Homo sapiens: one gene and its partners. The protein of the gene in region 7 interacts with the protein of the main gene of each other region in a biochemical or structural test. Each region holds a gene or a part of one and is shown on either strand. Other genes may lie near its edges.

Region 1 (3,500 bases), on a different chromosome or scaffold from region 7:
CAGGGGCAGCCTCTTTGTGGGGACCAAAACTGTAGTCAGCAGTGTCTTCCTCAGGGAGAAGCTGGGAAAATGGCATTATCTGAGGACTTGGAGGGATATAAAATCAGGGTGAGGGAGGCCTGGAATCTGAGGGAAGCTCAAGTTATCAGCACAGGGATGCCCAAAGGCAGATGTGGACCTGTTTTAAGGATCATAAAGATGTTGCTCCCAATTCCTTTGAAGACAGCCAAGGAGAGGCTTAGACTGTAGCCATAGAAACTGGGTCAGAGACCAGCAACAACTGCCCTGTCAGAGTTAGATTTCTGGGAGCAGCTTGAGCAGAGTTCATGTAGGCTCCTTCTCTGAGAGTTTTTTTTTTTTTTAACTCTCAGAGAAGGTGGGACAGGCAGAGGGGAGGGAAGCCTATGAAGAGTCTCTTGACGCCTGGGTCACTGTGTCATTTCTTCTTCCCCCAGACAAGTGTCCCCCAGCCCCACCTCTCCCTGGTGCTGCACCCTCTGTGGTGTTGACAGTGGGCCTGTCAGGTGAGTATCCCCAGGGCTCTGGGCAGGGCTGGTGGGACCAGGGGTGTGTGTCCTTGGCCCCTGTGTCACTGATCCTCCTTCCAAATTAGCCATTCGAATTAAGAAACCTATCAAGACCAAGTTCCGGCTGCCTGTCTTCAACTGGACAGCACTGAAACCCAACCAGATCAGTGGCACTGTCTTCAGCGAACTTGATGATGAGAAGATCTTGGAGGTAACAGGGCCTGGGGTCCAGAGGGCTAAGGTTGAGGGCTAGGGACCTGGTTGCCTTTTGAGGAGATTCTGGTCTTAGAAAAGCCATCAGACAGGGTGAGGCCAGGCTTAGCTCCACCAACCCTTCATTCTTGAGTGTACGTATATTTCTAGTTGTGTCAACACTTTGTGTTTGTATTCAGGAAATATTCCAGAGTGACAGAGCTCTGGGCCAATGCTGGGTGGGCTGTCATGAGGTCCTCCACTAGTATGAGGCTACAGCGTTTTCCTTGCTCACCTATTCCTGCCAGGACCTGGATCTTGATAAGTTTGAAGAATTATTCAAGACAAAAGCGCAGGGCCCTGCCCTTGACCTCATCTGCTCCAAAAACAAGACAGCGCAAAAAGCTGCCAGCAAGGTGACTCTGTTGGAAGCCAATCGTGCCAAGAACCTGGCCATCACCCTACGCAAGGCTGGCCGCTCGGCTGAGGAGATCTGCAGGGCCATTCATACGTGAGGCTCCCACTGACCTGGCTCTGGTCCCTAGTCTGTTGGCAACCCAGTTCTCCACCCAGGAGCCTGGGTTTCCCTAGATTCCAGGTCATCTGACAGAACTCCCTCACATCCCCCTAGTCATCCACTGGCTTGGCTAGAATTTACTGCATCTGTGCTGGCAGTTCAGCCCAGACCTTCACCCAAGGAGCTCTCAGTCTATTGGGAACAGTGCAGTAACACTGAGTGATACCACCAGGATGGTAGAAGTATACAGGCAGCTTTGGGAGAATAGGGAGGTTCATGTAGCTGAGCTTGGTGATGAATGAGGGAAGCCTTCCCAGAGGAGGTAATGTCTCAACTGGGACCTGAAGAAAAGATATGAGTTAGTCCAGTTCAGGGCCTGGAGGGAGAAGCATAGTGCCTTGGGTACTAAAAATTGAATCTGGCTTTAGTGTAGGGAGAGGAGCAGGAGAAGGTAGAGAGTTGGGCAGAAGTCTTGCAGGCTGGACCTCGTAAGCCATGCTCAGGTGTTTGGACTTCACCCTAGGTACAGTGGGAGTACATCAAAGGGCTTATTAAACAGGAGCATGGAGTGTTCCCCCGGGATCATTGCTGGTGCTGTGACAGATGATGCAATGGGTCCTTTGCCTTTGGCTGTGTTCCGTGTACAGTCCCCTGTCCAGTTCTTCTAGGAGCTTGGAGAATAAAAGGGATGAGGGAAAACGTGGAGAGATGTGAGAACTGAGGTGGTCCCTCCCTCCTCCACAGGTTTGACTTGCAGACACTACCTGTGGACTTCGTGGAGTGCCTGATGCGCTTCCTGCCCACAGAGGCTGAGGTAAAGCTGCTGCGGCAATATGAGCGGGAGCGGCAGCCCCTGGAGGAGTTGGCAGCTGAGGACCGCTTCATGCTGCTCTTCAGCAAGGTGGAACGGTTGACCCAGCGAATGGCTGGCATGGCCTTCCTGGGGAACTTCCAGGATAACCTGCAGATGCTCACACCGGTACAGCCCCCACCCAACTCATGGCTCTGGACAGCTGTCCCTCCACCCTCCATCTGCTAGTCACCTCCCCTGCCCTTCCAGTCCTTCTGACCCCTCCCTGTCTTTACCCCATCTCAGCCTGGGGTTACTTCAGTGTTCATATTGTCCTACAGCAACTCAATGCCATCATTGCGGCGTCCGCTTCCGTCAAGTCTTCACAGAAGCTGAAGCAGATGTTGGAGGTGGGAAGAGGTTGTGAACAGGGGTGCTGGGGGTTTTCAGGTCCTAGGTGGGGGCCTGGGGCTATACAGAGAGGAAGAAGGAGCCTTCAGGACCTGAGCCTGACCTGCCTCCCACACATTCTTTGGACAGATCATACTTGCACTGGGGAACTACATGAACAGCAGCAAGCGGGGAGCTGTGTATGGCTTCAAGCTCCAGAGCCTGGATCTGGTAAGATGGTGAGGGCAGCGTGGGCCAGGAAGCCTGGGGGGCAGCAGTTGTGGAGCCAGAGTGCTTAGCTCTTGTGCACCGCCCTCACCCCCTCTCCTAGCTGCTGGATACCAAGTCCACTGACCGGAAGATGACACTGCTTCATTTCATCGCCTTGACAGTGAAGGAGAAATACCCAGACCTGGCTAACTTCTGGCATGAGCTGCACTTTGTTGAGAAGGCTGCAGCAGGTGAGGAGAGCCTGGCTGGGTGGGCCTGCCCTCACATCCAGCCCAGGACAATCCCAGGAAGCTATGAGGAGAGAGAACACTTGGGTCCATTTGTTTCTGGCTTTTGTTATCTTCTTTCTGACCACTTCAAAGCTTTCCGCTGGAGCCTTAAGCAGGGGCCACTCCAGAGGGAGCCTTCCTCCAGGCGCCAGGCCTGGCCCAGCCCAGCCCTTCCCAGCTAGGTACAGTGGGAGCAGGAACAAGAAGGGGAGCAGTCGCTCTTTACTCCCAACTCCCTCAAGCTGGCCCCAGAGGTCTTGTGTTTTGTGTATGATGTATGTGAAGTGCTTAGAAAAAAATCATAAAGCTCTCTATAGACATGAGGTAGCTGTTATTTCTGCCCCACCCATGAACCCTAGGGCAGGCCTGAGGCAGTTTCATTTTGGAGACCAGCAGTCTCTGTGGCTTGCCTGCCTTTGCTACTGTGTTCTTTGGGGTCACAAGCTCAGTTTCCATTCCATTCCCTCCCCCTGTGAGGGATCAGCTAGCTTGGTGTGTACTTCCTTATGTCCATACAGGTATGTGAACCTGAGTGAGCCCATGCTGAGGGGGAGGGCCAGAGTTTGATATAGCTCTGGGCTGGG
Region 2 (3,500 bases), on a different chromosome or scaffold from region 7:
AGCTGCCACAATTCCAGGTTTCTTAGTCAGATCTGATGTGCTGAACTAATAAATAAGAAATTTAGTAAACAATAAAGTATTACTCAATCCTTATTTCTATTATGAATAATAATTTCCAATTTTCTTTCTCCAGATCCTTCCTATCTTGAAATTTCTTGAAGAAATCTTAGTGTTTCCTTACTTTCTAGGGAATAAAGTTCAATCCTTAAGACTTGAAGTTCAAAGGTCTTCCAAAATCTAGCCTCAATTTACTCTTCAAACTTACCATCCACTATCTGCCCAAGCAAATGTCATTCTCAATTCTAGCCAACCAGTCTCCTCAATGCCTCCTAAAATTCTATACACATTTTCTATCCCAAACTTTTGTTTACACATTTCCTGATATAAACACTCCCCAACTAATGATGGTTCCACTTACAATTTTTCAGCTTTACAATGGTGCGAAAGCAATATGCATTCAGTAGAAACCATACTTTGAGTACCCATGCAACCATTTAGTTTTGTACTTTCAGTACAGTATTCAACAAATTATGTAAAATATTCAACACTTTATTATAAAATGGGCTTTGTGTTACATCAGGTTGCCCAACTGTAGGTTATTGTAAATGTTCTGAGCACATTTAAGGAAGGCTAGGCTAAGCTATAATGTTTGGTGGGTTAGGTGTGTTAAATGCATTTTTGACTACAACATTTTCAACTTACGACAGGTTTATCAGGACATAATCCATCATAAGTAGAAGAGCATCTGTACCTGATAAGCTGCTTGTTTCTGACATCAATTCTCTAGGCTATTTAAGGTTTTTCATATTCAAGTCCCACAATGATATACCTATCTCTCCTCTCTATTATTCAAATCTTTTATACATTTATATATGTGTGTGTGTGTGTGTGTGTGTGTGTGTGTGTGTGTGTATATATATATATATATGCTGGTTTGCAGCATATATCTTTTTGTGCATAATTTTTGTCTTCTTCAGCTATACAGTGAATAACTGAGGGGTAAAACCTGGATTTTCCTTACTGCTCCCTCATATTCCAAGATACTGGGAGGGTGTTATGTGCTTAGTAAGTCCTCAAGACTTGACTACGTTTCACTAATAAAAATCATTTCAGTTTCTAGCTAGTTTATGCATCAGTTTATGTATTAGTAAAGGAGTTGATTGATAAGACATATATATCTCATACATATGTCAGATATATCTCATATATTATCTTTTATATATATATCTTTCATTTGATCACATTTTCTTGAGGGGCTTTTCTGTATTTACCTCTTCAACATTACAGTCAATTATTTGGTCTCTTTAAAAAAAGGGTTACAATTCCTCTACAGTGCATTAACTCCTATGAGAAAATAATGTTTTCTAATTAGTTTTACTCTCCTATATGCTATTATATCAGTATAACTCTCGAATACTTCTGAGACTACTAACATAGATGCAATAAATAAGATTTATTTTGTATTACACTATATTTATGAATATGGTTAAGCATGCCAAATGTCTCCTAATTACTAAATACTTAATACAGCAGGTCCTCAAATAACATCCTTTTGTTCAACATCATTTTGTTCAATGTCCTTTCATCATAACTTTTTTTTTTGTTTTTAAGAGACCAGGTCTTCCTATGTTGCCCAGGCTGGAGTGCAATGCCCTCATCATGGCTTACTGCATCCTTGAATTCCTGGGCTCAAGTGAACCTCCTGCCTCAGCCTCTGGAGTAACTGGGACTACAGACATGGGCCACCACTACCAGCTACTTTTTCTTGTAGAGATTAGGTCTATGTTGCCCACGCTGGTGGCAAACTACTGGCCTCAAGTGATCTTCCTGCCTCAGCCTCCCAAAGCGCTGCGATTAAAGGTGTGAACCACCACGTCCAGCCCATTATTAACTTTGATGAGAAAAGAAAATCATTTTCAAGCTGGGGTCACTGTCTGTGTGGAGTTTGCAGGTACTCCCCATGTCTATTGGGTTCTCTGGGTACTTGGATTTCCTCCCACATCCCAAAAATGTGCATGTTAGGTTCACTGGTCTGTCTACATTATCCCAGGATGAGCAAGTGTGCGAGTGAGTTGTGGGTGTAGGTATGAGTGCACCCTGCGATGGGATGATGTCCTGTCCAGGGTTGGTTCTTGCCTTGTACCCTGAGCTGCCAGGATAGGCTCCAGCCACCTGAGACTGAAGTGAAGTAACTGGGTAAATAATTATCTTGTTTTTATTACTCTTTCTTAAATGTGTTACAGCTCACATTTATTTCATTAATTAATATTAGAAGTGTTTTTGTCTTTATTTAGAAGTTTGGTGATATATGCTACAGAAACTTAGCTCTTGTTTATATCAATTACCCTATGGTAAAACTGGTTTCATTATGTGTTGTTTCACCTAAAGTCACAGTTTCCAAGAATCCATCAACGATGCTAGGTGACCTATAAGAATTATATTTATAGTTAACAATGTATATCCTATTACTGTGACTATGAATGTATAAACTTTTGTTTCTAGAACCTTTAGAGTAAGAGTGAACTCTATTAGGAAAGCTATGACTTCTAGACAGAATAAATTATAACAAAGTTCAACCCTTATCTGCTCTTTTAAAATCTGTTTTTCTACTCAAAACTAGAATGGGCTACCATTATACTTCCATTAATATTATTTATTTAAAAAATCTATAGAATATGGACAAAAGTGAAATACATGAGATTACTACAAGCATGCATTTCCTTAGGAAAGTTTTGCTCTTACCAGTTTTTATAAAGACTTTTTAAAAATCTTACTATAGAAGACTAGAATACTGATACACATGGTAGGAATTGCTCAGCAGCAAAACAAATAGAACCCGGCTCCTCTGTACTTTGGCCAACGCTTAAGTAGCTCCAATTCTATATGTTATGAGGAATCCTGAATGTCCTAATCAAACCTGCTCTCTAATCAAGACTTTATTTCCAGACTTTATAATCTGATATTACTCATAGATACAATTTTTACATTAAAAGATAACTTTTTAAAAAAATAGTATATTTTAAATAAAATCCCTACAACTGTCCACAACAGAGAGATGGCCAAAGAGTGACTGGCAGAACTTGGTGAAAGAGACACTGTTCAAAAGGCCCAGTCACATCTTTTCCTCAAGAGCTGTGCTTTCTAATATCCAGAGCACAGCAAGAACAGAAGTTGAATAAGCAAGAAAGACAGTAAAAGATAAAACCCAGCCCTTTGCATCTTAAAAGCATGCCTAATTTTGGCATTCATTTGGGTTTCAGAAAAGTTCTGTCAAAGGTTCTAGTGTCTCTTGGTATGCTGTTTCAGGAATACAAAATTCACTAATATAATAAGCCATAATTTCAGCATGTTGTCCAGTGCATTACAAAAAAATTTAAGAAAACCAAGATTATTTTAATCACACAAATGAATCCCCACAGTAACCTCAATCTTGAATCAGTCTCTAAAGTAACCAAGTCAATTCACTATAACTATTAAGTCTACCACTGAAACTAAAAACC
Region 3 (3,500 bases), on a different chromosome or scaffold from region 7:
AATGCAGTGGTGGGATCTCAACTCACTGCAACCTCTGTCTTCCTGTTTCAAGCTATTCTCCTGCCTCAGCCTCCTGAGTAGCTGGGATTAGAGGCACCTGCCACCATTCCTGGCTAATTTTGTATTTTTAGTAGAGATGGGGTTTCACCATGTTGGCCAGGCTGGTCTCAAACTCCTGACCTCGTGATCCACCTGCCTCGGCCTCCCAAAGTGCTGGGATTATAGGTGTGAGCCACCGCGCCCGGCTGTTAGTGTATCTTTTAATTTTAATGGCCTTCCTGTGGTTCTTCTGTCTGAGAATGCCTAGGAGTCTCTTTGTTCTATGCTTTGTTGAAAAAGCCTGGGCTAGGATTCCAGAGATCAAGTTGGTCCTCCCCACTGAGTGGTCTCAGCTCACCACCTCCTTCCCTTGGAATCTTCTTGCCGATGAAGAATGCCCAGGGAATTGGGCTAGGACTAGGGTAGGAGATTTCAGTTTGTGCAAGTCCAAAAACTGATTTGTTTTGTCTGATGTAGTCAGGGGAAATAAAGTTGGCTCTTGTTTAGGGCCTTATAGGCCAAGTTTTTTAGTAAGTTGTAGATTCCCATGGTTTAGACATGAAACATCAAAGAACTGAATTGGCATGTCAGAAGATGGGAAAACGAGACTGAAGAAGATAAATCTTAAACACTTGAAGTGTCTCTGAGTTCATTTCATCAGTGACCAGGTACAGGTTACCTCTGTACCTGTGGGTGAGGGAAGTCTAAAGAAAAATCCAGGCCGGGCGCAGTGGTTCATGTTTGTAATCAGAGGACTTTGGGAGGCCAAGGTGGGCAGATCATTTGAGACCAGCCTGAGCAACATGGTGAGACCCCCATCTCTACAAAAAAACCACAAAAATCAGCTGGGCATGGTGGTGCACACCCAAGTCCTAGCGACTTGGGAGGCTGAGGTAGGAGAATCGCTTGAGCCCAGGAGGTGGAGGTTGTGGTGAGCCGTGATCGTGCCATTGCATTCCAGCCTAGGTAACAGAGCACGAGACCCTCTCGAGGGGGGGAAAAGAAACGAAAAATCCAGGAACAGGTAGGCCTTTTCTGTTCTTTCTGCAATTGAATCTGTTTTTTTTTTGTTGTGTTTTTTTTTTTGTTTCGTTTTGTTTTTTTTTTTTGAGATGGAGTCTCATTCCGTCACCCAGGCTGGAGTGCAGTGACGCTATCTCGGCTCACTGCAGCCTCCGCCTCCCAGGTTCAAGAGATTCTCCTGTCTCAGCCTCCTGAGTAGCTGGGATTACAGGTGCACACCACTGTGCCCAGCTAATTTTTTTGTATTTTAGTAGAGATGGGTTTCACCATGTTGCCCAGGCTGGTCTTGAATTCCTGAGTTCAGGCAATCCACCTGCCTCAGCCTCCCAACGTGCTAGGATTACAGGCATGAGCCACTGCATCTGGCCGAATCTCTGTTGTAGTGGGAATCAAATGATTGCCCAACTCTCAGGAGACATAGCCCTGTTGCTTCTGATTAAGGAAAGGGTTAAGACTTGTAACTTAAATAAATAAACAGAACAAAAAAGGATTGGAAAATGGAGTCCCTGGCAGAGAAAATAGCAAACTGGGCTTATTGAATGCATGCCATTTTGCTACACTTGCTCCTGTTGCCTCCTCCCCCACTGCTGGAGGCGGGAGGTAGAGGATCTTTCTGCTGGAGGCAGGCAAAGGATATTTCTTTGGTTTTTGGAGACAGGGTTTCACCATGTTGGCCAGGCTGGTCTCAAACTCCTGACCTCAAGTGATCCACCCACCTTGGCCTCCCAAAGTGTTGGGATTAGATGTGAACCACCGTGCCCGGCTGGTAGGGGATCTTGAATGTTGCTGTTCCTTTGCCCTTAGCATTTGCACCAGGTTGTCTGCACAGAAACGATGACCCCTCTTGTTGCCTGTTGGAAGTCTGTTTGTTCCAACCCTGTGTTTTCTTTCCTTGCAGCTGGTCCTGGACTCCCAGAAGCGAGTCTTCTCCTGGGGCTTTGGTGGCTATGGCCGGCTGGGCCACGCAGAGCAGAAGGATGAGATGGTCCCCCGCCTGGTGAAGCTGTTTGACTTCCCTGGGCGTGGGGCTTCCCAGATCTATGCTGGTTACACCTGCTCCTTTGCTGTCAGTGAAGTGGGTTAGTGATTTCTGCCCCCTGGCTTATCAGTGCTCTGGTGCGGAACCGTGTAGCCATTGTCCTGTCCCTAGACCACGAACCCCAATTCTCTTTACCTCCCAGTGTTCTTTATTTTTTTGAGACAGGAACTCGTTGTGTTGTCCAGGCCGGTGTCGAACTCCTGGGCTCAAGCAGTCCTACCACCACAGCGTCCTGAGTAGCTAGGACTGCACAGGCACGCCACCACGCCTGGCTCCAGTTATCTTTTAGACAGAACACTTGTTTGCCATCCCGTCCTCTTTTCACCCTGATAATACTGAAGATGAGACTCAGCTCTCGATGTCTGGTCACGCTGGGAACATGTTTTGTCTTCCCTTAGGTGGTCTGTTTTTCTGGGGGGCCACCAACACCTCCCGTGAATCTACCATGTACCCAAAAGCAGTGCAGGACCTCTGCGGCTGGAGAATCCGGAGCCTGGCTTGTGGGTAGGTGGCAGCATCTCCTGTGGGTATGAGGTCTCTTCCTTTCATGGGGGTGTCAGACACACCCATGGGGTGCCCCTCCCTGATGGGGCTCTGTTTCTGCTGCCTGTTGGGCTGTCCTCAGCAGGCCATCTGACACACTGAATCCCAGAGTCCGGGGGTACAGGAGGGGAGAGGGCCCATTTGCTGCTAGAACAGATGGCTGTTCCCTGTCTTGTGGGAAGAAAGTCATTTTGAAGGTTTCTGTTCAAAGAAATAAACAAGCAGAGCTTGATGTATTCCTACGCTGCAGGTTGAAAATTATACGTAGTTGGAAACGTAGCAGGACTTGAGTTGCTGTGACACTGGGAAGACGACATTGTCTTGGCAGCAGTGGTTTGTAGTTCATTTCAGGACACCTGTTGAGTTAGCTAGCACTTCTTGCTGAGGAGTTGGATTTATCAGCTGGCAGGTGTGGGTGGAACAGTATGAGGGGCCTCTGTCGGCGTGGCTTTAATCTGTTGAAGGCTCTAGCCCTGCCCAAATCATTATGCATGAAGGCTGCTCCCTCTGGAACAGGCTTTCACTTTATCCTGATCTGGTCTCCTCTTCCCAAAGCGACCTCCCACTGAGAGAGAGCTGTGCAGGATGCACAGCAAGGTCCCCTGCCTTTGGCCCCTAGGCCTGTCTAAGGGCTTTGTTGTTTTGTTGAAGCGTTGAGTGGCCTGCACGGAACAATCTTAGGATTGAGGAGAAACCTGTTGGCCCTGTTATTGTGTTTGCTACTTGGAATGAGTACGCCAAGGGAAAAGTGGCAGCTCACACTCATGCCCTTGAGCCATAGCTGCGTGGGTGCAGGTCTGGGGCTGCTGGCCCTGCAGTGACAGCCTGCCTGTTTGCAGGAAGAGCAGCATCATTG
Region 4 (3,500 bases), about 22 Mb from region 7:
CTGCCTCACTCACTCACTGCCCTTTTAATGGTCTGATAAACACTTTCAGGCAGGCGAATTAGTGCCACAGCTCACCTGTTAACTAGGCTGGAATCTGTTTTCAGTAAGAGACTGTCTCAGGCAAGGATTCTTTTAAAGTCTGTTTCTTAAATTGCTCTTTCTGGCATGACATCAATTAGTCACCCATAGGGCCACATGGGCATTGTGAGCAGGACTGGGTGCCTGTGTTAGGGGGTCCTCCATCAAGGGGCATCTCCAGCGGCACATTCAGAGGCCTTGGAGTCAGACGTCTCCTAGGACCAGCAGGAACGAAAGGGATCTGATTCAGGCCTGACTACTGCGAAAGATGCTGGAGCCAAATCAATGGTATGATCAGAGTTGGGAAAGGCTTACCAAGGAAGGGGGATAGCCTGGTCTGCCCGGTGGGCCCAAGAGATGGGCTGTGGGAACAGTGCATCCACGTGCTTGGTTGATGAAAAATCCCTCAAGACTATTTTGTCTGACTCCACGTTCACCGATTAACTTTCTGTCATTCTGTGATCCTAATATCTAGGAAAGGGTGGATATTCTGGTCAACTAACAGGAACCTCTTATGGGTATGGTTGTCATGAGTTCGGCTCTCGTAACAGAGATCAAATTGAACTTCTGTCCTGCACAGCTTAGGGGGCAGACTGTGGAATGGGGACCCTTTCAGGGGCTGCCACCCTGAAAGGCCTCCTTAATTATTTTACAATTCTCTGTTGCTGCTGTTTTAGTACTGTCTGTGCACTAACTGACTTGTATATTAACTTCTGGATGACAGCTCCAGGGAGGGCGTGTTAACTTCATGGTCCAGAGGGCTAGTGTGGGAGAAATGGCAACAGTCATGGCTGGGGCCAGAGCCAAGGCCAGATTGCAGAAATTAGCAGGCAAAAACAAGGTTCAGGGAGCAAGATGCTATTAAAGGGTCTGAGGTATTGAAAGAAGTGCTGCCTTTCCTTCCTGGCCACTTCAGATGGACAGTGGGGAGAGGGTCTACGGGTGAGGGCTCTCACTTTTTAGAGGGTGATGCAGAACTAAGTGCTCTTTCCTCTCTTCCTCTGCGAACTTGTTTGCATGGCTTGCTTTCCCTGGCCCCATCTCTCACTCCCCTCCAGATTAACTGTCCCTTTCCAATCTCAATGGTAACACAGATGAGGGAGGCTGCCATGTCCTCTCTCCTCCCTTCTAGCTGAACAACTGCTGGGCACGGTCTGGACTTCTCCAGGCTGGGGCCTCAAGGGAAGTGTGTGAGAAACCCCAGACTCCAATACTGCCACCTCACTCAGCCCCTGGATCAAAGACCAAGCTCGTGTGCCCCAACACTGGGCCCACCGGCCACACCAGGCCCACTTCTTGGCTGTCTTTCCACCAGCCTATGGACTCCATGGGGTCTTGCCAATACCTGGCACAAAGTAGGGTTCTTACTAAATATATATGCAGTGAAAGAACTGTGTATCACACAAACAAGCCGAGTGCTTGCCACTTGAAGGGCTCCCAGCATCACCCCACCGCACTGTGAGATCTGGGCAAAAGAATCAGCCCTATTTCAGAGGGGCTTGCTAGTGTTGCAGACTGGAACTTACTTTCCTGGCAGCCTCCAACTTCCCCAGAGAAGTAGAGCCCCAAGGCCCTGGGAGAGGAGGGCTTCCCTCCTCTCATGGACTTGACAGCCCACATCAGAGCCACAGCCAGATCTTACTGAAGGCCTTGGCCCTAGAGCACGGATCCTAACAGACCAGGCATTCCTGCCTGGATCCTCACACCCAGAGTCTGTGGATAGAATTCAAGGGTTCATGAACTTGTATGAAAAAAAAGTACATATTATTTCTACTAAGCACTAACTGAAATGTAGCATTTCCTTTGATTATGAATGCAGGCCACAAACCATAATATCTGATATTCTTTCACCCATAGTTTTCACGTGATATTTCACATCATATTACAACTACACACCAACAATTTTCAACATGCTGGCAACGTTTAGATCCATTGCTAGATCTTGTTGTTTAAACCATTAATAAAGAAGTACATATTTTAATAAATTAGTTTCCTTTGTAATTCTCTGTATTTTATTTTATGCATTTAAACGTAGACACAAAAGGGTCCCTTTGGGACTGGGAGTGGTGACTTATGCCTATAATCCCAACACTTTGGGTGGTCAAGGTGGGAGGACTGCTTGAGCCCAGGAGTTTAAGACTAGCTTGGGCTACAAAGTGAGCCCTTTATCTCTAAAAATAAAATAAAATAAAATAAAAACAAATTAAAATTAAATTTTTTAAAAAAAGGAGTCCTTTGGGCTTTACCAGTGGGTTTATAGAATGAAAAAGGGAGAACATGAGACCTTGGTCAGGCAAATTTGGTTCTGAATCCTTGCTCTGCCACCTGGCAGATTCAGATGGGAATTTGTTTTTCCCATCTGTTAAATGGGAAGTTGCTGAGCAGATTAAATGAAATGGTGTGTGCAAGGCTTTCAGCATGGCCTGGGGGAGCAAAGCTGTCAGTGGACAGGGCTTAGCTCTGTCCTTCAGAGGGTGAGGATGGGTCCTGCTGGTACAAGCTGCTGAGTGCCTGGCAGAGGAGGGATGGACCTGGAGGCTAGTCTGAGGGGCCACAGCTTTGCTCAGTGGCTGTGGGTGGATCTGCCTGGGTGGGAATGAGGCTGACTGATGACTGGGCCTCCCAGCATTTGGTTCTTCCCTTGGAGATGGGAGCATGGCAGGAAAGGCAGCTGATTCGGGTGCAGGAGAGACGCAAGAAGGGAAGGGACTCAGCAGCAGTTTCCCAGTGTGGTCAGTCATCTCCTGCATCAGAATCTGCTGTGCCTGTGTCCGGCTTCCCAGACTAGTTGGGCTCTCAGTAGTGTCGGATCACATGCCTACCCACTTGCTGGGCCTTGCCCTCCTACCCCACCCCAACCCAAGCAATGAACTTTTAAGAAGTCACACTTTTCAGAATTAATTTCTTTTTAAGAATAATTTCAATGTTAAGTAACTTTCATGATAGAAAAGCCAGACTTTCTAAAATCTTTACTTGGTGTGTTGACTTCTACAAACACAAAGAAAACTCAAGGGACAGAAAAGGCTTTTGTTTTCACATACAGTATTACGGTCTGAACTATGTCCCCTGCAAAAGTGATATGCTGAATTCCTGACCCTCAGGACCTCAGAAGGCAACTGTATTTGGAGATAGGGTCTTTAAAGAGGTGATTAAGCTAAAATGAGGCCATTGGGTGAGATCTTAATCCAATTTGACTGGTGTCCTCATACAAAGAGGAAGAGACATCAGGCATGTGCTCACACAGAGGAAAGTCTTCAAGTGAAGACGCAGTGAGAAGGTGGCAAACCAAGGAAAGAGGCTTCAGAACACACCAAACCTGCCCACATCTTGATCTTGGACTTCCAGCTTCCAGAGCTGGGAGAAAACAAATTTCTGTTATTTGATCTACCCAGGCTGTGGTATTTTATTATGGCAGTCCTAGC
Region 5 (3,500 bases), on a different chromosome or scaffold from region 7:
CGGCCCAGAGGGTCAAATTTAGGGATATGAATGTGGGGTGAGAGAGGTGGGTTATTGAAATAGAAATCTCATCAAATAGATTATTCAAATCTCCATGAAGTCGTGGTCAAGGATTTGGATGGAACTCTAGCCATCTATCAGCTACAGAGAGCCAGCTACCATCCTCAGACAGGACTAAAGATGTAGAAGGATCTGGAACTTTGACATTTTATATGTTTTGAAAGCATGTTCTGCCATCTGGGATAATGTGTCTCTTTTGCCTCTGGAACACATCTATGGTCATCAAGAAGGAAAAGTCAGAAACCAGAATAGAAGGTGGTACCTCCAGACAGGAGGATCTGCCAGTTACTACTTGGAACCTCCTCCCTTCTCTCTTCCCTGTATGATGTATTTTCTTTCATGGCTTAGTGGTAGCTCAAAGCTCAAGGTGACCAGAATGATTCCCTTACAGCAGTGGTTCCCAAACATTGATGTGCAACAGAACAACTTGGGTAGTTTGTAGAAAGGGCAGATTTCCTGGCCCTATTCCCAGAGATTCAGAATTAGTAGGTTTGAGGTGGGGCCCAGGAATCTGCACTCAAATGTGCTACTCTCAGGATCTGACCTAAGGGGCCTTTCATATGTGGCCCCCTTTCCTCACCGGAGGACATAAGTGCATCACACAAACCTCTTGCTGTGGGCACTTCCTTTGGGGTTAAAAATGGGACCATTTGATTAAGGCAACCATTGCTAACCATCTTACTTCCCTGGGCTGGAGAAATATCAAATGTCACATTTTATGTTCTTAAAATCTCAGGGCCACAGATTTCCTTTGACAATGACATGCTCTGTAACATGAAATTTATATCCTAAAGCCTTTTGTCCTTCCTTCTTACCACACTCGGTGGGAGATTCTGCAGAAGACTTTTGGTTCAGTCTAGAAAATGGAAGTAAATGTTACCCCTGGGAGAGAAGCCACACCCGAAAGTCTAACTTAAGGAATGTAAAGAGAACAGCAAGTTGAGAGTAAAAGCTAAAATGTTCCAAGAATCTTTCAGCTTCTAGGACAATGAAGGTTCTGATTCCCTAAAAGAGGACTCTTCTTTGGGGGCAGGGGGTGTATCTTGGTATTAAAAGCTCATTGACAATTACTATTCCTCCTCCTCACCTCTGTGTTTCCAAGACGTTTTGGGCTTCTGTGGAAATAACCCCTTAATATTTTCTTTCTTGTGGAAATGTTCCTTGATAAGCAATTCTGTGCCAAGACGTTGTCCCTAATTTGGTCACTGGCTAATGCTATAGGCAGTGCTATGACTGATTTGTTCAAAGCTGCTTCCCCTATGTGGCCCAATGCTAAGCCTTTCCTGAAGGAATAAGGGAACCATCTCACCATCAAGCAGCTGAGATGGCCTGAAAGCATCCTGTTTGGACTATGACATTTCTGGCTGTGTTCATACATACTGCTTCCCCACAGCAGGCCTGATCAGTCTCCTACCCCACCTGCATAGAGTGTGATACAGCTGTGAATGCTTTTTGGACCTCTCTCTAGGGCTTCCCTGAGAGAGGGGAGTTAGAATGGGGCTTTGGGAAGCCTATGTGGTAGAATCCCTGGTACCCAGAGTGGGAGAAGATGACACCCGGGGCACTGCAGGGAGGGAACCAGGAGAGATGAAGTAGTAAGCTGAGGCATGCCCTTCTGGCCAGGCTGGCGTCTCTGGGCATGGCCACATCTGTTCACAGTCTGAGACTTGAGTCCTGGGGTCACACAAGGGCACTGGGTAGGAGATGTCTATCTTGGGAGGAGGTCTTGGGAAGCAACCACAGATAGGTGGGATGATGGGATGGAGAAAGGGTGAAACTAGGAGTTCTTAATATAGTTGAGGGGGGAGAAAAGAAAAAGCACACACTGCCCTGTTTACTTTTTTTTTTTTTTTTTCATTTATGCTATGGAGAAACCAGCATGGAGATGTCATGGGAGAGCATGCACAGGCCCCGCCCTAGGGAGTGGTGATGTGTTTGGGGAGGTGCTTGTTTCCAGGTCCATCCCACACGTTGTCCAGTTGGATCCTATGGCAGGCTGGCTGTGGCTTTCTCTCTCCTGCTTCTCTTCCTCCTCCAGATAAGGGTCTGCAGGATCTTCTGCTTAGCAAGTGGTGGCCAAGGACTGGTGGATGGGTGGCTGGAAGCAGCGCACATGCTCCACAGTGGAACTGTCTGTCTCCACGGACTTCATGTATTTGTTCAGGATGGCAAAAACCTCATTGTTCAAGATCTGATACTTCCTGATCCGGTCGGCCATCTTCTTCAGGGGCTACAGAAGGAAGGGGATGTTCAAGTTAGGGCAGGACAAAGTGGGGGTGGAAAGAGGGAGTAACAGGAGAAGTCACTGAGGTCCAGGGTCCCCTGCATCAGTGATCATGTCACTTTCTTAAAGTCCTTTTATGGAATCCCCTGGATCTGGCAATCAAGTGTTAACTGGACCGTAAAAACCCTCTCCAAGTTTTAAAACGATCTACAGAGCTACAATAATCAACAACACTGTGGCACTGGTAAAAAGGTAGATGTACAGATGAATAAAACAGAATAGAGAGCCCAGAAATACACTATTACACATATGATCAAATGATTTTCAACAAGGGTGCCAAGACTGTTCAATGGGGGAAACAGCCTTTTCAACAAAAGGTGCTGGGAAATATGGATACCCACACAAAAAATAACAATGGACGCTTACCTTATACCATATACAAAAAATTAACTCAGAATGGATTAGAGACGTAACCATGAGATTAAACTGAAATTCTTAAAAGAGAATATAGGGGAAAAATTTTCATGATGTTGGATTTGGCAATAATATCTTGGGGTATGACATCAAAAGCAAAGGCAAAAAGTTGCACTACATCAAAATTGAAAACTTTCATGCATCAAAGGGACACCATGAGAATGAAAAGGCAACCGAAAAATAGAAAATAATCACAAATTATATCTGATAAGTAATATCTAGAATATGTAAAGAACTTCAACTCAACAAAAATGACTCAATTAAAAAAATGGACAAAGGACTTGAATAGACATTTTTCTAAAGAAGATATACAAATGGCCAATAACACATGAATATAGCACTCAGCAGTGACAGTCATTAGGGAAATTCAAATCAAAATCACAACAAGATAACTTTTTCACCCCTCAGGATGACTATTATTAAAGAATAAGTGCTGATGAGGATGTGGAGAAATTGGAACTCTTGTGTACTGCTGGTGGGAATGTAAAATTGTGCAGCCACTATGGAAAACAGAATGGCAGTTTCTAAAAAGTTAAACATAGAATTACCATACGATCCAGCAATTCCACGTCCAGGTATATACTCAAAAGAATGGAAAGCAGAAATTTGTAGAGTTATTTGTACACCCATGTTTCATGGTAGCCAAAATTAACCATTTTCAAAAATACCCAAAAGGTGACAGCAACCTGAGTGGACAAACACAACGTGGTCTATATACACAATGCAATATTATACAGCCATA
Region 6 (2,171 bases), on a different chromosome or scaffold from region 7:
GGCGCCACCACAGCTAGTGAGTAGCGGAGAACTGGCCGCAGCAGGTGGTCACCACAGAGGCCCAGGTTGGGGGGAAATGGTCGCTCGGGAGGAATGGAGGAGGGGCAGGAGAGGGCCGCGGGGTCACCTTGAGGCGGTTCAGCTGGTCGTGCAGGGCTGCCTTCAACCGCAGCAGCGTCTCCTCCTCCTTGCGCAGTTCCTGAAGCCGGCTCAGCATGTTGCCTGGTCACATAGCCAACCTCCGGGCTGCTGTCGGCCCGGCACTCGGTGATGACGCCATCGCCGCCGACTCCCGGAAACCGAGCGGGGAGGCGGGGCTGCCCGACACATTGAGGAAAGGCGAGGAGTGCGCCCCCTTCCGGCGCCCGCCGTAGCCTGGCCACTCCGCGGGGGACGAGCTGCAGGAAGGGGTACAGCCTGTGTCAAAACACCTTGATTCATGAGTAATGATCAGGATTTTGAAATTAGATCCATGGAGCTGTAAAGAACCTGAAGAAATCTTGGGTTTGGCTATCCTTTAATCCGATAGGCCATTTGCGCACCAAGTGGTCAAACACCGTTTCAAATGACCGGGTGAACAGCACTTCCAATGTGGTGTGCCACCAAGTGGCTATCTTTAACCCCACAAAACTTGCACATGTGTTTGAAGGCAGGCACCAAATCAGTAGCACATGAACTCTACTGTGTTAAGAGGCCCTGCAGGGTAGGACTCACAGTGGACTTTAAAGGGGTAAGGCTGCACAAAATAGAGAAATAAAGAGCATGAAAATAAAGCCGTGCTAAGAAACGACGTGCTTAAGAACTGAGATTTGGCCCTGGAAATGGGGAGGGTTAACAGATCACCTTGGCTGTGAACTGAGACTGTCTTGACAGTTCGAGACTGTCAGAGAGAAGCTGACAGTTTAACAATCCAGATGCAAAACAAGACTTTTGACACAGGACAAGAGGTTAATTCTAGGGTAATATTTGCAGTTTAGCTTTATGGGTAAAAAAAAACACCCTTATATCTGGAGGCATTTCATGGGTACTTCTTTTGAACACAGTTGGTTAACATAATCACCAAGACACACAGGCAGTCCTGAAAAATGCTTCTGGTACTTTTCAGAGAGTCTTGCTCTGACGCCCAGGCTGGAGGGCAATGGTACAATCTTGGCTCATTGCAACCTCCACCTCCCAGGTTCAAGTGATTCTCTTGCCTCAGCCTCCAAGTAGCTGGGGTTACAGGCATGCACCATGACTGGCTATTTTTTATATTTTCAGTAGAGACGAGATTTCATCATGTTGACCAGGCTGGTCTTGAACTCATTGGCTCAAGTGCTCTGCCCACCTTAGGGTCCCAAAGTGTTGGGATTACAGATGTGGGCCAGTGTGGCCTTCTGGCACTTTTTCAAACCATGGGTGAAAATACTCAACTCTATTGTTATAGCTGGTTAAAAAGAACACTTCTCAAGAGGTAATCAATTTTACTGCAGTACCAAAAAAATTGTGCTCTCCAGTTGTGCCCTCTTGTGGTTAAAGTTAAATCTTTACAGAATTTAACCTATTTTCCATCTGGTGGGGAGCTAAACTTGAACAGCCTCTGCGTTTCTGACCAAGTCCTGTTACACCTATTTTTCAAGCCACATTATTTAGAAAACCACAACTTTTTTTAAATCATTCCCCTTCCACTGAACTCCATGGACTTAGTATAAATCCATGCCCCATTTTATACCACACTATATAAAATGTAACAGTCTAAATTATGGCCAACAAAATGTCACTTTAAAAAAATTCTAACCAAGCTTTACAGAGCACACCAAGTCATGTTTCTCACTGCCTGTATAATCAGGTCTTTATTCAAAAGAAGCTGTCCAAAATGATTTGACCTTTATGGAATAATCAAATTTAAGAGTTTATGCAGCAGGCTTCTTCTCCTCTGTAGTAGGTTTCTTCTCTGCAGGCTTCTTTTCAGGGGCTGGTTTCTTGGTAGCTGCTGCCTTTTTTCCCACCAGAGGCTTCTTCTGCTTCTTAACACCAACAGCAGCCTTCTTTCCTTTCTTACCTACCACAGGCTTCTTGCCTGCAACCGCCGCCTTCTCATCTGATTTGGCTTGTAGTGCCGCTGCTGCAGCAGCTGCCTTATCCACCCGGAGCTTGTGCTGCAACAAATTAGGCAGAAAACAGTAAGAATC
Region 7 (3,500 bases):
GTCAAGAATTTACAGACATTAGGTCTGAGTTAAGATATTTTTTAAAAGTACTTGCTTGAGTCATCCACATGTACCCAGAAGTTACCCAGATTCAAGAATTATGAGCAGATGACCTAAAAAACAAAAATTCTATCTCTTTTTTGTCACTGGCTAATGCCCAATTCAATGGCATGGATCCTGTAGCTACTCAAAAGGAAGGGTAATTCAGAAGGAACAGCAACAAATAAATTTGTCAAATCAGTCAGGTAAGTCTAAGGTACCAATACACTAAATTTCTCTGCAAGGCCTATATCCTACTTTGTTATTTTTTCCTCTACATTACCTCTACATTACTTATAATACCTTACACAATGTAAATGCTATAAAAGTTATTATACTTTATTTTTAAAAATTTGTATTTTTTTGTTGTTGCTTTTTTAAAGACTATTTTCCATCGCAGTTGCTTGAATCTCTGGATACAGAGGGTCGACTGCAAATGGAAATATTTTAGTTTTATTCTCCAAACAAAAATTATTTATTTCATCTTATTTATCTTCCATTTTTGTCAAATGAAAAAGTAAGAGTAAAGAGGCAGACACTAAAAACAAGAATAAGTAGTAACAACGTAAAGTCACAAGTAACCACTGGAAACAGTCACATTTAACACTGACTGACTTATGGGCTTATACTGCAGGAAAGAATACCTGTGTATTTGTTTCATTCATTCAACAAGTATTTTACTGAGCACCCATGATGTGCCAAGAACTGTGCTCAGCACCTATAGGCTTCTTAAAAAGTACAGAACATAGCCCCTGCCCTCTAAGAGCTTACAATCTATTACTTGTTGGAAAATTAAAGCAAATTAAGAAACCATAAAACAAGTCAATAACTAGGTGCCAAAATAAGTGAAACGGTAAGAGTTATGGGTAGATTACAAATATTTTCTTTAATAATCTGAAGGGGAGGTATATGTTGGCAAAAGTCATTTTTGAGAAACTTTTGGAGAAGGCAGGACTTGAAATAGTACAACATAGGTAAGCAAAGCAAACTTCATGGTGATACTGAGCTGGGGGCAGGAGGGTAAGAAGAACAGCCTAAGTTTGAAGTTGTGAACTAATATAATCACTCAAGACACCGTGAAAAGACCAGCCTAAGTTCAAATTAGGGAGTGTAAAGACATGCAGCCTTGAATCCTGCTTTGACATGTACTATGGGGAGGTTCTTTAAAGTTAAGCTGTGGAATTTAGATACTATGTTATAGGCACTGAAAGTACTGGAGATTCTTGGGCAAGGAGATAACACATTGAAATCTAAAATTTGTGGGGGCAGGGGGGCATCCTTGAAGCAAGAAAACCAACTCAACTCAAAAACTGTTGAATAACCTAGGCATGGGAGAGTGACGACTTGGGCTCATGTGGTAGCAGGAACTGAAATAAAATAAGATCTATTAGAGCCAGCCTTACTCAATATAGGAGCAAGAAAATCAAACTCATTTGTAAAAAGCAATTATTCATTTATCAGTTTACTGACCAAAGACCAAAAAAAAAAAGCACTGAATAAATAGAATTAGGGAGGCATTACTAAAGGAATTTTCTGTTCTTTCCATATCATCCCATAAAATCTGATATCTACTCTTATCAAATGATCTGAACTGAATCATAGGATGTTAGAGCTGAAAGGGACCTTAACTCAATTACTCTACTCTTCTCACTGATAGAGGAAAATAAAGACTCAAATAGGGAGGAAAAAAAAAGAGCCAGCTAGCATGACTCTGGGGCAAAGGCATAATCATCTGTGATAAAGATGGCAGGACCTGCATGTCCTTTGTGTAGAAAACACAAAAGACATGAAAACAGTATTTACTATGGACACTGAGGAAGAAGACAGCCTCACACATAATTTTATTGATAGAAATCTCTACAGAAAATCTTTATTTTTTTGAGATAGGGTCTCACTTTGTCACCCAGGATGGAGTGCAAGGCGTGATCTTGACTCACTGCAGCCTCGACCTCCCAGGTTCAAGCAATCCTTCTGCCTCAGCCCCCTAAGTAGCTGGGACGACAGACGCACACCACCACACCCAGCTTATTTTTAAATAGTTTTTGTAGAGATGGGGTTTCACCATGTTGCCCAGGCTGGTCTCCAACTCCTGAGCTCAAGCGATGCACCCGCCTCAGCCTCCCAATGGGAAATTTTTGAGTACTGCCATCCAGCAGGGAAAATTCTTTATCTTTCTTTACTAACATTTAACCAGTGATCCTCAAAGCATCTTAAATCACATATTATTTAAAGCTTAAACAACCTGTAAGGTCCCTTTCAGCTATAAGATCCTATAACTCTAAAAGTATGACTTTCCTATAAAGTTATATAGAATAAGAGGCAAATTTAATCTACAAGATAGAAAACTGAAATAAACCTGAAAGAATATTAAGCTCAATTTGATAATCATCAAATATTTATTACTACTAAGAGTCAGCCTAAATGCATGAGATGGCACTCTAGGTCATCTCATGAATTAAGAAAAAAAAAATTTGAACACACCACTTCTTTAAGCTAAATAGCTTGATGCATTTGAGAAATTATGAACCCTGGCTTCCGTACATCATTATGCTACCCAGTCTGCATATTATTTTACAAACAAGTTTTACAGTTTCATGTCATATTGGTAACATTCCAAAGACCACAATTATTTGGCAAGTAAGACTGCCACCAATTTTAGTCTTTAGCTAGTCCCAGCATGAGATGTTCATGCAAACCAGTCAACACATGAAGGTTTTTATAACCTTCAGTCCCAAAGTCTAAAGAATTTGTGAACTGACTTTTTTAAATTGCATGGCAGAACCCTCCCAACTGTCACTACTGTGAATGATACAGACAGACATCCTGCTTCTTCTCAATTATCTTCTGACCACTTATTCCTCCTGAGTACTTCCAAGAGTGGCAGAAGAAATAATGCAGGAAAAAGGATCAATTGTCCTATTTATTATCACCTTTAATTTTTAAAGCAATGTTTACAGAGTTTCAAATATGATTTCTGATTTGAGAATTCAAATTATCCATGCTCTCCCAGTCTGTTATAAAGCTAAAACAAGAATTTGTTTTACCAAGATTTGGGACCCATATTTGTTAGTGAAATATTAAGGGGATAAAAGGGAATTATATAATTCTGACAAAAACAGCGGAGATTCTTTTGGGACTTTCAGGGCATAACTCCTACTAAAACATTTATTTATTATACTAACAGGAGCCTTCAGAGGGAGAAGAATTCTAAACATCTAAATAATTAGGTCTACTTAAAGGCACGTGGCATATATTAGCCTAGGAAAAAGTAGAAGAAAACCACACCAAAAAAATCAGTTATTTGAATGGATGTGTACCGAGTAGCAAGTAAACTTACTAGAAAGATGGTCACTGATACAGCTAAAGAGAAAGGGCCATAAAGCAAACTGTGACCAGCTTATGTCAATGAGATACATGAAAGTACTTTTAAAAAATAAAATCTGCATTTTTTTTTTTAACTA

Evidence for each region.
Region 1: the proteins of PRPF40A (region 7) and FMNL3 interact in far-western blotting, tested with the Homo sapiens proteins (one study listed by BioGRID).
Region 2: the proteins of PRPF40A (region 7) and WASL form a complex in vitro, tested with the Homo sapiens proteins (one study listed by BioGRID).
Region 3: the proteins of PRPF40A (region 7) and RCC2 form a complex in vitro, tested with the Homo sapiens proteins (one study listed by BioGRID).
Region 4: the proteins of PRPF40A (region 7) and WIPF1 form a complex in vitro, tested with the Homo sapiens proteins (one study listed by BioGRID).
Region 5: the proteins of PRPF40A (region 7) and CYFIP2 form a complex in vitro, tested with the Homo sapiens proteins (one study listed by BioGRID).
Region 6: the proteins of PRPF40A (region 7) and RPL4 form a complex in vitro, tested with the Homo sapiens proteins (one study listed by BioGRID).

What each region holds. Positions count from the first base shown.
Region 1 is NC_000012.12:49,648,406-49,651,905, reverse strand, and holds part of FMNL3 (formin-like protein 3), read left to right. Parts: intron 1-455; coding exon 456-524; intron 525-613; coding exon 614-738; intron 739-1,027; coding exon 1,028-1,230; intron 1,231-1,980; coding exon 1,981-2,215; intron 2,216-2,367; coding exon 2,368-2,436; intron 2,437-2,566; coding exon 2,567-2,647; intron 2,648-2,747; coding exon 2,748-2,877; intron 2,878-3,500. UniProt on the Homo sapiens protein: Plays a role in the regulation of cell morphology and cytoskeletal organization. Required in the control of cell shape and migration. Required for developmental angiogenesis.
Region 2 is NC_000007.14:123,739,004-123,742,503, forward strand, and holds part of WASL (actin nucleation-promoting factor WASL), read right to left. Parts: intron 1-3,500. UniProt on the Homo sapiens protein: Regulates actin polymerization by stimulating the actin-nucleating activity of the Arp2/3 complex. Involved in various processes, such as mitosis and cytokinesis, via its role in the regulation of actin polymerization.
Region 3 is NC_000001.11:17,412,178-17,415,677, reverse strand, and holds part of RCC2 (protein RCC2), read left to right. Parts: intron 1-1,960; coding exon 1,961-2,141; intron 2,142-2,499; coding exon 2,500-2,605; intron 2,606-3,483; coding exon 3,484-3,500. UniProt on the Homo sapiens protein: Multifunctional protein that may affect its functions by regulating the activity of small GTPases, such as RAC1 and RALA. Required for normal progress through the cell cycle, both during interphase and during mitosis.
Region 4 is NC_000002.12:174,587,805-174,591,304, forward strand, and holds part of WIPF1 (WAS/WASL-interacting protein family member 1), read right to left. Parts: intron 1-3,500. UniProt on the Homo sapiens protein: Plays a role in the reorganization of the actin cytoskeleton. Contributes with NCK1 and GRB2 in the recruitment and activation of WASL.
Region 5 is NC_000005.10:157,391,623-157,395,122, reverse strand, and holds part of CYFIP2 (cytoplasmic FMR1-interacting protein 2), read right to left. Parts: intron 2,291-3,500; coding exon 2,123-2,290; 3' UTR 1-2,122. UniProt on the Homo sapiens protein: Involved in T-cell adhesion and p53/TP53-dependent induction of apoptosis. Does not bind RNA. As component of the WAVE1 complex, required for BDNF-NTRK2 endocytic trafficking and signaling from early endosomes.
Region 6 is NC_000015.10:66,497,515-66,499,685, forward strand, and holds the end of RPL4 (large ribosomal subunit protein uL4), read right to left. Parts: intron 2,139-2,171; coding exon 1,893-2,138; 3' UTR 501-1,892; downstream 1-500. Other genes in the region: SNAPC5 (snRNA-activating protein complex subunit 5), read right to left, coding at 128-217. UniProt on the Homo sapiens protein: Component of the large ribosomal subunit. The ribosome is a large ribonucleoprotein complex responsible for the synthesis of proteins in the cell.
Region 7 is NC_000002.12:152,710,962-152,714,461, forward strand, and holds part of PRPF40A (pre-mRNA-processing factor 40 homolog A), read right to left. Parts: intron 1,407-3,500; exon of another isoform or gene 1,343-1,406; intron 1-1,342.